Homo sapiens: one gene and its partner. The protein of the gene in region 2 purifies or fractionates together with the protein of the main gene of each other region. This does not show direct contact. Each region holds a gene or a part of one and is shown on either strand. Other genes may lie near its edges.

The links. Proteins that work in one complex are often made in the same cells at the same time.
Region 1: the proteins of LSM10 (region 2) and ZNF473 purify together in Homo sapiens (affinity purification with western blotting, with the first as the bait; one study listed by BioGRID). This does not show direct contact.

Annotation. Positions count from the first base shown.
Region 1 is NC_000019.10:50,028,229-50,032,504, reverse strand, and holds part of ZNF473 (zinc finger protein 473), read right to left. Parts: intron 1,614-4,276; 5' UTR 1,423-1,613; coding exon 1,414-1,422; intron 1-1,413. UniProt on the Homo sapiens protein: Involved in histone 3'-end pre-mRNA processing by associating with U7 snRNP and interacting with SLBP/pre-mRNA complex. Increases histone 3'-end pre-mRNA processing but has no effect on U7 snRNP levels, when overexpressed.
Region 2 is NC_000001.11:36,394,250-36,400,091, forward strand, and holds the start of LSM10 (U7 snRNA-associated Sm-like protein LSm10), read right to left. Parts: upstream 3,660-5,842; 5' UTR 3,518-3,659; intron 1-3,517. UniProt on the Homo sapiens protein: Appears to function in the U7 snRNP complex that is involved in histone 3'-end processing. Increases U7 snRNA levels but not histone 3'-end pre-mRNA processing activity, when overexpressed. Required for cell cycle progression from G1 to S phases.

The DNA of each region.
Region 1 (4,276 bases), on a different chromosome or scaffold from region 2:
GCACATGGTCCTGATAGCTGTTTTGGGACAAGGGAAGGAGCTCATGAAGGATGGAACCCATACTAAGTGAGGTTCAAGATGGGGACAATAAACTGAGTCCCAGTCACACCTGCAGATCATGACAGCCCTACCTCTGGACTTTTGGTTATATAATTAATAGTCTCCTGACTGCGTAAGTCAATTTCTGGTACTTATAACAGAAACTGTTGCTGTCTATATCCTGTCAAGAGTAGCAGCCAAGCAGGAGCCAGATCAAAGAGGACCTTTGAGGGGCTTCCTTTCCTCACACTCCCAGACTGCGCTGGACAAGGCCCCTGTCACAGTGATGAAGGAGGTGGGAAGACGGGGCAGACTAGATCCTTGAGGCACTGGGGAGCCACAGGAAAGTGACAAGGTCAGAGCACATATTTGGCAATCATTTACCCTGTGTGCTAGACCACATTGTGGGCACTGGGGACATGGACGTGTGTCAGACCTGTTTCCTGGCCTCATGGAGCTCATGGTCTGACGGAGAGACACGAGGGAGGTAGGACTGTGGCAAAGGGAGGTATCGGGGACTGTGTGGGCCAAGGGGGAGAGGGAGGCCATTGCCTTGAGGTCAGGGAAAGCTTCCTGGAGGGAAGGTCATTCAAGTTGGATCACTAAGGATGAACAGATATTTACCAGATAGAGAGATGGTTTCATGCATCATTCATTGATTCATTCATTCATTCAACTAACACCTCATGAGGCTTCCTGTGTTCCTGGCCTGTGCTGGGCCCTGGGGACCCAGAGATGAATCCCCATCAGTTCCTGTCCCCAAGGAGCATCTAGTCTGGTGGGGCTGACAGATATGGGCAGGAACATCCATATCTAGGTGGATCTGTGCTACAGTGGAGGCAGCAGGGGGTACTATGGAAGGCTAGAGCAGGAAAGTGCTGACTGCCTAGGGAAGGGTGGGGGAACTGAGCCGGGTCTTAAAGGCTGTGTGAGACACTACCACATGGAAAAGGGGCAGGGAATTCCAGCAGAGGGCCCAACCTGAGCAAAGGAAGCTGCTGGAAAGTACAGAATCAACTTTTACTACTAGGCCAAAGGGAGTATTTGTTATCTAGAGAAATGACAGAAGATGGTGCAAAGAGGGTAGAAGCCAGAACACACAGGAAGGCTGAAAAACCTGGAATTTATTCTATAAGCAATAGGGGTTCCCAGAAGAGTACAAACAGGAAAGAACAGCATGCGAGCTTTCCTTTAAAAAAGATCGCCTGGGAGCCACCATGGGACAGGGAGGCCAAAACAAAGGAAGGCCAGCTTTCCTGCCATGGGGGTGACCAATCAACACAGAGCGACCTTCAACTCGCCTCGGCCACAAAGGAAGGCCAATTTTTCTGCCTTTGGGTGTGACCGATTAGGACAGAGCGACCTTCAACTCACCTCAGCCATGGCCAACTGGGGTTCAGTAGCCTCTTTTAAGCTCCTCCTCCTTCCCCTCCGTGTTCCCGGCTGGCAGGGCTGTGGGAAGCACAAGGGAGCTGTGAGAAAGCCTCCCTTCCACCCATGGCTGACTCGCTGTCCATGCTGACGAGCCCCCAAAATGTCCAGGAGGAGGAGGACAAGTCCCAATGTGAGTCTCCCTGCAGGGGACAACAACAACTATATTTACTGAAGCCACCTCAGCCCCACATTTGCACTGTGCTTCAGAACCTACAGAACAGCTTCGCCACCAACAATGGTGGGTTAGCACCTAACAGTCAGTCAGCACATGTTTAGGAGATTTGGTGATGAAAGTCTATGGCCACAGTGGGAGCTTCTGTCTTGCTCACTGCTGTGTCTTAGCACCAGCATGGTGCCTAGTACGCAGTAGGTGCTTTAACAGTAGGTGTAAAAGTACCTACAGTTGTTGACAGAACGAAGGTGTCTAAAGAACCAATGGAACAATGCTTCTGGGATTTCTGATTATCATCTCTGGAATTTGAGTTCAGGTAAATTGGCCTCCGAAACTGTTACTCTTTTTTGGAGACACGGTCTTGCTCTGTTGCCAGGCTGGAGTACTACAGTGGCACAATCATGGGCCACTGCAGCTGTAATTTCCTGGGCTTAAGCAATCCTCCAACCTCAGCCTCTCAAGCAGCTGGGACTACAAGCATGTGCCACCACATCCAGCTAATCTTTTTCACTTTTTGTAGGGACAGGATCTCACTTGTTGCCCAAGTTGTTCTCAAACTCCTGACCTCAAGTAAGCCGCCCTCGTGGGCCACCCAAAGTGCTGGGATTACAGTTGTGAGCCACCGCACCTGGCCACTATCTCTACAACAGAAATATTTCAACTTTTGTTTTAACCGTGACCCACAGTAACACCACCAATATGTAGAATAGGCCAGGCACAGTAGCTCACGCCTGTAATCTCAGTACTTTGGGAGGCCGAGGTGGGCAGATTACTTGAGGTCAGGAGTTCAAGACCAGCCTGGCCAATATGCTGAAACCCCGTCTGTACTAAGAATACAAAAATTAGCTGGGCTTGGTGGGACGTGCCTGTGATCCCAGCTACTCGGAAGGCTGAGGCAAAGAATCACTTGAACCCGGGAGGCAGAGGCTGCAGTGAACCGAGATGGTGCCACCGCACTCCAGCCTGGGCAACACAGTGAGACTCCATCTCAAAAAAGAAAAAAAAAAAGTATCATGACTACTCAAACACACAGTGTAACTAAACAAAAGCTTCATGAAGCAATACTTACCCTGCAATGTAAGATGCACTGGGATGTTTTCTATTCTAGTCTCTTTTATTCTACTTCATTAAAAAATCATAGTCACTGCCCACCTAGTTATTTTCATGACCCATAATACGCAAAACTGTACCACAGACATTTTTACCCATTTGTATCCACTGCGTGGACCAAGTAGCACATATCTGCGGAGTGCTGAAAGCATTTCATATCACAAAGCAGCACGGATCACTTAACAATGACACAGGTCCACAAATTCTTCAAACTCCAAGGCCAGATGTGCTTTGAAATTCAACTTTTATTTTCAAAAGGTGATATGGCATATACATGGCATATTTCATTAAAATCCCAGTGCAGGGCTGGCCGCAGTGGCTCATGCCTGTAATCCCAGCACTTTGGGAGGCCAAGGCAGGCGGATCACGAGGTCAGGAGATCCAGACCATCCTGGCTAACGCGGTGAAACCCCGTCTCTACTAAAAATACAATAACAAAATTAGCCAGGCATGGTGGTGGGCGCCTGTAGTCCCAGTTACTCAGGAGGCTGAGGCGAGAGAATGGTGTGAACCCGGGAGGTGGAGCTTGCAGTGAGCCGAGATGGCGCCATGCACTCCAGCCTGGGCGACAGAGCGAGACTCCGTCTCAAAAACAAAAACAAAAACAAAACAAAACAAAGTCCCAGCGCAGTGTGGATCAGGCTGCATTTCATAATTGAACACTTTACCCTAGAGAAAAGTATCATCGTTCATTCTAGGTAGAATAATTTAAAGTTATATTTAAAAAATACCCTGTAGTAGTTCAGGTAAGGCACGGACACTAAATTTATGAAAAAAAATTTGTTGTTCTGAGTTGTCCAGATTTTTGAGACTACAAATATGGGAATATGGTAGACCTACAATAAATGCTAATTCTACTGAACAATGAGTTTTTCTACATGTCAGAGGTTAAGCCTCAACCTACGAGTATAACTCAGTTGACAGATATTTGGCCCATAATGTTTGTTGGCAGACAGAATGTTTTGAAAGAAAATTCAAGCATGGCTCACTAGTCTCAAACTTGAAAATTGGGAAATTTCACCTAAAAATTATGTTTCCAACTTCTGAAACATCCTAGGATTTGGCAACATTGGGTCTACATCCCACGAAGTTAGTTCACTGGTGCCCATTTAAAGCTCCCCCACCAGTGCTAGGCAAGTGGGGGATGCTTATAATCCCAGCACTTTGGGAGGCTGAAAGGTGTTCGAGACCAGCCTGGGCAACGTAACAAGACCTTGTTTCTAAAAAAAAAAAATTAAAAATGAGCAAGTTGTGGTGGCACGTGCCTGTAGTCCCAACTACTTGGGAGACTGAGGTAGGAGGATCGCTTGGGAGGCTGAGGTAGGAGGATCACTTGAGCCCAGGAGTTCAAGGCTGCAGTGAGCTATGATTGTGTCACTGTACTCCAGCCTGAATGACAGAGAAAGATCCTGCCTCCAAAAAAAAATTAAATTTGTTTTTTTTTTTTTTTTTGAGACGGAGTCTCGTTCTGTCGCCCAGGCTGGAGTGCAGTGGCGCGATCTCAGCTCGCTGCAAGCTCTG
Region 2 (5,842 bases):
GACCACCTCTGCAATTTTTGTATCTGTGGACACAGATGCTTCCCGCACATGTCTCATAGAATCCTCACACCAACTTGCAAGCCAAGGATTACTTATGCTCATTTTATGAATGAGAAAAATATGGCTAGGATGGCCAGGCGCGGTGGGATACACCTGTGGTACTAGCTACTCAGGAGACTGAGGTAGGAGCTTCACTTGAGCCCAAGAGCTCTGCTGACCTGCTTGGGCAACATAGCAAGACCCCAACTCTGATTTTTTAAAAAAACCTACAAGAAGGCTGGGCATGGTGGCTCACGCCTGTAATCCCAGCACTTCGAGAGGCTGAGGCAGGCAGATCACGAGGTCAGGAGATTGAGACCATCCTGGCTAACATGGTGAAACCCCGTCTCTACTAAAAATGCAAAAAAAATTAGCCGAGTGTGGTGACAGCGGGCGCCTGTAGTCCCAGCTACTCGGGAGGCTGAGGCAGGAGAATAGCGTGAACCTAAGAGGCGGAGCTTGCAGTAAGCCAAGATCGCGGCAGAGTGACTCCGTCTCAAAAAAAAGAAAAACCTATAAGAAAACGGTGAGCATTGGCCGGGCGCGGTGGCTCACGACTACAATCCCAGCACTTTGGGAGACTGAGGCGGGTGGATCACCTGAGGTCAGGAGTTCGAGACCAGCCTGGCTAACACGGTGAAACCCTGTTTCTACTAAAAATACAAAAAATTAGCCAAGCGTGGTGGCACATGCCTGTAATCTCAGCTACTCGGGAGGGTGAGGCAGGAGAATTGCTTGAACCCAGGAGGCAGAGGTTGCAATGAGCCAAGATTGCGCCATTGCACTCCAGCCTGGGCAACAAGAGCAAGACTCTGTCTCAAAAAATAAAGAAAATGGTGAGCATTTCTATTGGGTCAGAGACAAGAAAAGGATGCCTTTTATGGCTTCTAATCAACAGTAAAATGTAGGTAATGGTCAATGCAATGTTCAAAAAACGATTACGGAAAGAAGGGAAAGAATTTAGAGAAACAATAATTATAAAGGAAGATCACTGTCCTTGTTGGTCAATTATAAATTATATGATTATCTACATTGAGAATGCAAGACAAATTATTAGGACTAACAACAAAAGTCTGTATCATTCCTAATAATACATTAATTTTAAAAAATCAATAACTTTAAAAAAAGAAAAATATGGCTAGGAGAGGTAACTTGCCCAAGGTCACAGTAAATAAGTGGAATTGCTGGAATTCAAATCCGTAGCCACAGGCCGGGCGTGGTGGCTCCCCGCTGTAATCCCAGCACTTTGGGAGGCCAAGGTGGGTGGATCACTGGGGCTAGGAATTCAAGACCAGCCTGGCCAATATGGTGAAACCCCATCTCTACTAAAAATACAAAAATTAGTCGGGCATGGTGGTGAGCACCTATAATCACAGCTGCTCCGGAGGTTGAGGCAGGAGAATCGCTTGAATCCGGGAGGTGGAGGCTGCAGTGAGCCAAGATCACGCCACTGCACTCCAGCCTGGGTAACAGAGAGACTCTGTCTCAAAAAAAAAAAAAAAGAAAATCCATAGCCGTCTGGCTCCAAACCTCACACCAGGTGTGCATTAGAATCATCTGGTGAGTTTTTAACCCAACCTCCCCACCCCAGAGATTCTGATTCGTTTGGTTAGAGGGGTGGGCCCAGGTATCCTATTTTGTAAAAGCTCCCGGCTGGGCGCGGTGGCTCACGCCTGTAATCCCAGCACTTTGGGAGACCGAGGCGGGCGGATCATGAGGTCAGGAGATCAAGACCATCCTGGCTAACATGGTGAAACCCCCATCTCTACTAAAAATACAAAAAAATTAGCCAGGCGTGGTGGCGGGCGCCTGTAGTCCCAGCTACTCGGGGGGCTGAGGCAGGAGAATGGCGTGAACCTGGGAGACAGAGCTTGCAGTGAGCTGCAAGTGGAGTGCCACTGCACTCCAGCCTGGGCAGCAGAGTGACTCCATCTCAAAAAAAAAAAAAAAAAAAAAAAAAAGAAAGCTCCCCAGATAACTCCAAAGTGCTGAGGGGTACTGGTTAGAAATGCGCAATCTCAGGTCTCTCCCCAAGCCTGTTCTGAGATAAAATCCACTCCTTCACTGAGTGGCTCACTGCCATCTTCCACGCTGGCTGGAAACAGACTGCATTTTAACATGACCCCCTACGTGAATTAGATACACGTTAAGGTTTGAGAATCATTGGTTGACACCAGTAGTTCTCAAACATTAGTGTGTATCAGAATCATCTGAGGGGCTTGTTAACTCAGCTTGCTGGGCCCCACTCCCAGTTTGACTCAGGTCTGAGGTGAGGCCCAGAGATAAAGTCATTTTGAACATGTTCCCAGGTGATGCTGATGCTGCTGGTCAGGGGCCCACACTCTGGGAACTATTGGTCTACACCATGCAGCTGTTATGTAAGTAGAAATTAAGGTAATGAGGCCGGGTGCAAGGGCTCACGCCTGTAATCCCAGGATTTTGGGAGGCCAAGGCGAGTGGATCACCTGAGGTCAGGAGTTCAAGACCCGCCTGGCCAACATGGTGAAACCCAGTATCTACCAAAAATACAAAAATTACCTGGGCATGGGCGCACCTGTAATCTCAGCTACTTGGGAGGCTGAAGCAGGAGAATCGCTTGAACCCAGGAGGCAGAGGTTACAGTGAGCCAAGATTGTGCCACTGCACACCAGCCTGGGTGACACAGCGAGACTCTCAGAAAAAAAAAAAGAAAATAAATCTGGATAATGAATTGGGGAAAAAAACCCCCAACCGGTATTATATAAGGTACATAGGTTTTGAAGGTAGAGAAACCTAGGTTGGAATCCCCACTCCACCCCTAATTATGAAAACCTAGAAAAGTTAATGTCTCTGAACCTGTTTCCACATTTATTAAACTACAGGAGAAACAAAGCTACCAGAATCACACTCCACTAAAGGTACTCTCCTTTGATTTCAACATGCCCTGATAATGTATTAGTGCACTATGTCTTACCTATCCCTTATTTTCAGACCTGAGTTAAAGGGGGTGGAACGCTCTCTCTTTACGACCTCACTCAGCATCCCGTCCAGGGCTGTGCATTGTGGCACTGAGCGTGGCAAGCCAGACTAGGCCAGTGACGAGGGGGCCTGGGAGCTAGGTCCCTGGGCATGGCCTAACGACCAGCCACCCGGCTGCAGCCTGATGAATCTGCGATCAAGCAAAGGTATGGGGCTGCTGCTGCGACTGCAAAGAGCAGTCACCGGACCTCGAGTCAGGCCCGGGTTCTAGAACAGGCTTTGCCACCTCCTAGGAGGGCGATCACTTAGCAAACCACTTAGCTTCTCCAAGCTAGCTAAGCTACCGGTAAAACGGGATGAGCACCGCTTACTCAGAGCAGCGGGAGCGGGTCTGGGGAAAGGAGCTATACTCGGTAAATGGGGAAGAAAACGCTTCCTGGGCTCCGGCACCTCCTTCCGGAGGTCCTGGCATCCCCCGCATTCCGCCCCGGGGCTCCCTGCACCGCCGACCCGGACCCACCACGCGACATTCCTTCCGCTTTCCCCGTCTGGGTCGCCGCCGAAGCTAGCGGGCGCCTGGACTGGCTGCCTCCCGCCGGCTGCAGCAGGACGGAGAAACCATGCCGGCGACCGGGCCGCTCTGTCCTCCGGGCGCAGAGTGCGTCAGTGCTCTGCAAGTCACCGCGTCACGGAGAAACTACAATCCCCAGAATGCTTCGCGGCGCGGGGCTCGTGCTCCGCAAATCCCGGCCTGCGTCATTGGAGTCTCTTTCACTAGAGTCGTTCATTCATTCCGCACGCATTCATTGAACCGGCGACCTGGGCCAGGCTCCTTCCCAGGCTCCGGCATGGAGCAGTGACCAAGATCAAGTGGCTCCCTGAGCTGATGGCGCTGCAGGGGAGAGAGTCTTAAGAAAACAAAGAAGAAAAATAGGGAAAAATTTCTTCAGAAGATTAAAGGTGTGATGTGATGGTGACAAGGTGGTCTTTTATTGGATTGTCAGGGGTGCCCTGAGAAGGTGACATTTGAGTTGAGATTAGTGACATGAAGCCAAGCTTGTGAAAACTATGGGAGGAGCATTGCAATTAGCGGGAACAGTTTGTTAAGTAAAATTTATAGGAGGCAGGGCCGGGTGCAGAGGCCCACACCTGTAATCCCAGCACTTTGGAGGACAAGGCGGAAGGATCACTGGAGCCCAGGAGTTCGAGACCAGTCTGGGCAACAATGGGGAGACCCTGTCTCTACAAAAAATAGAAAAAATTAGCCCACCGTGGTGGCGTACACCTCTGGTCCCACCTACTTGGGAGGCTGAGGCAGGAGAATTGCTTGAATCCAGGAAGTGGAGGCTGCAGTGAGCTCAGAAAGTAACACTTCATTCCAGCCTGGGCAACAGAGCAAGACTCCGTCTCAAAAAAAAAAAAAAATTGGAGGCCATTGGTTTGAACAGGGCTCCTGCACCAAGCCCAACAGAACCAAAATGGAGTCACTCATGCTAAAGTTCTACATCACCAAGTGGAAACTAAGTTGTTTATCTGATATTCCGATAAATCAGAAGAGTGAGAGATAGCTAGATCTCCAAACCATCCTGTTTTAGCTGGCAGGATAAGGAAGTCCCCTCTGCTTTAGCCTTCAAAGTTACAAGGAAAGTAACTTTGAAACAACCAATCTTTTTGTTTTCTGTTTCTGCTTTCCTCAGCCCTTTTCTGGCTGTAAAACCAATCTCCTCTGCTCAGCTCATTTGAACACTCATTCCATTTTATAGAATGAAGTGTTGCCCGATTCTAGAGTTGCAAATAAAAGTCAGATTTAACAAATTTGGCAAAAAAAAGTCAAATCACCAATTAAAAGTTAAATTTTTTCTTTTCACAGTTCATGCAAAGAACCTGGGGGAAATGACCTTGACAATTTAGGAACACAGGAAAGGCCAGGGAAGCTGGGGAGAGTGGTATAACAAGAGGCCAGAGAGGAAGCAGGAACCAGAGCATATAGGGCTTTGTGAGCCAAGGTAAGGAGTTTAGATTTCATGGTTAGGAGTGCAGCCTCCGGATACAGTGCCTAGGTTCAAATCTACTCCTGGCTAATTGTGACTTTGGGCAAGTTAGTATCTTCTCTGTGCCTCAGTCTTCTCATCTAGTACTAGAAGTGCTATGACAGGCTATTGAAAGGGAGCGAAGTGATTTGATTTACTTGTAGAGACAGGTTCTCACCCTGTCATCCAGGCTGGAGTGCAGTGGTGTGATCATAGCTCACTGCAGCCTCAACTACCTGGGCTCAAGTGATCCTCCTACCCAAGCCTCAAGAATAGCTGGGACTACAGGCACACGCCACTGTGCCCCACCTGATTTACATTTTTTAAAAGTCACTCTGTATAGCCTTGGAAAAATTACTTTCTTCCTCAGCCTCAATTTGCTTGTTATGAAAACAAAAAATTAGGCCTTTCTCAGAGAACTGTAAGATTTAAGTGACCTTCATTAATGTGTGAAAGCATCTGGCACAGAGAAGAAGCTCAGTAAATTAGGCTTCTTGGCTGGGGGTGGTGGCTCACACCTGTAATCCCAACACTTTGGGAGGCCAAGGCAAGAGGACTGTTTAAGCTCAGGAGTTTGAGACCAGCCTGGGCAACATAGTGAGACCCCATCTCTAAATTTTTTTTTGTTTTTGAGATGGAGTTTCACTCTTGTTGCCCAGGCTGGAGTGCAATGGCCTGATCTCGGCTTACAACCTCCGCCTCCCGGGTTGAAGCAATTCTCCTGCCTCAGCCTCCCAAGTAGCTGGGATTACAGGTGTGCACCACCACACCCGGCTAATTTTTGTATTTTTAGTAGTGACGGGGTTTCTCCATGT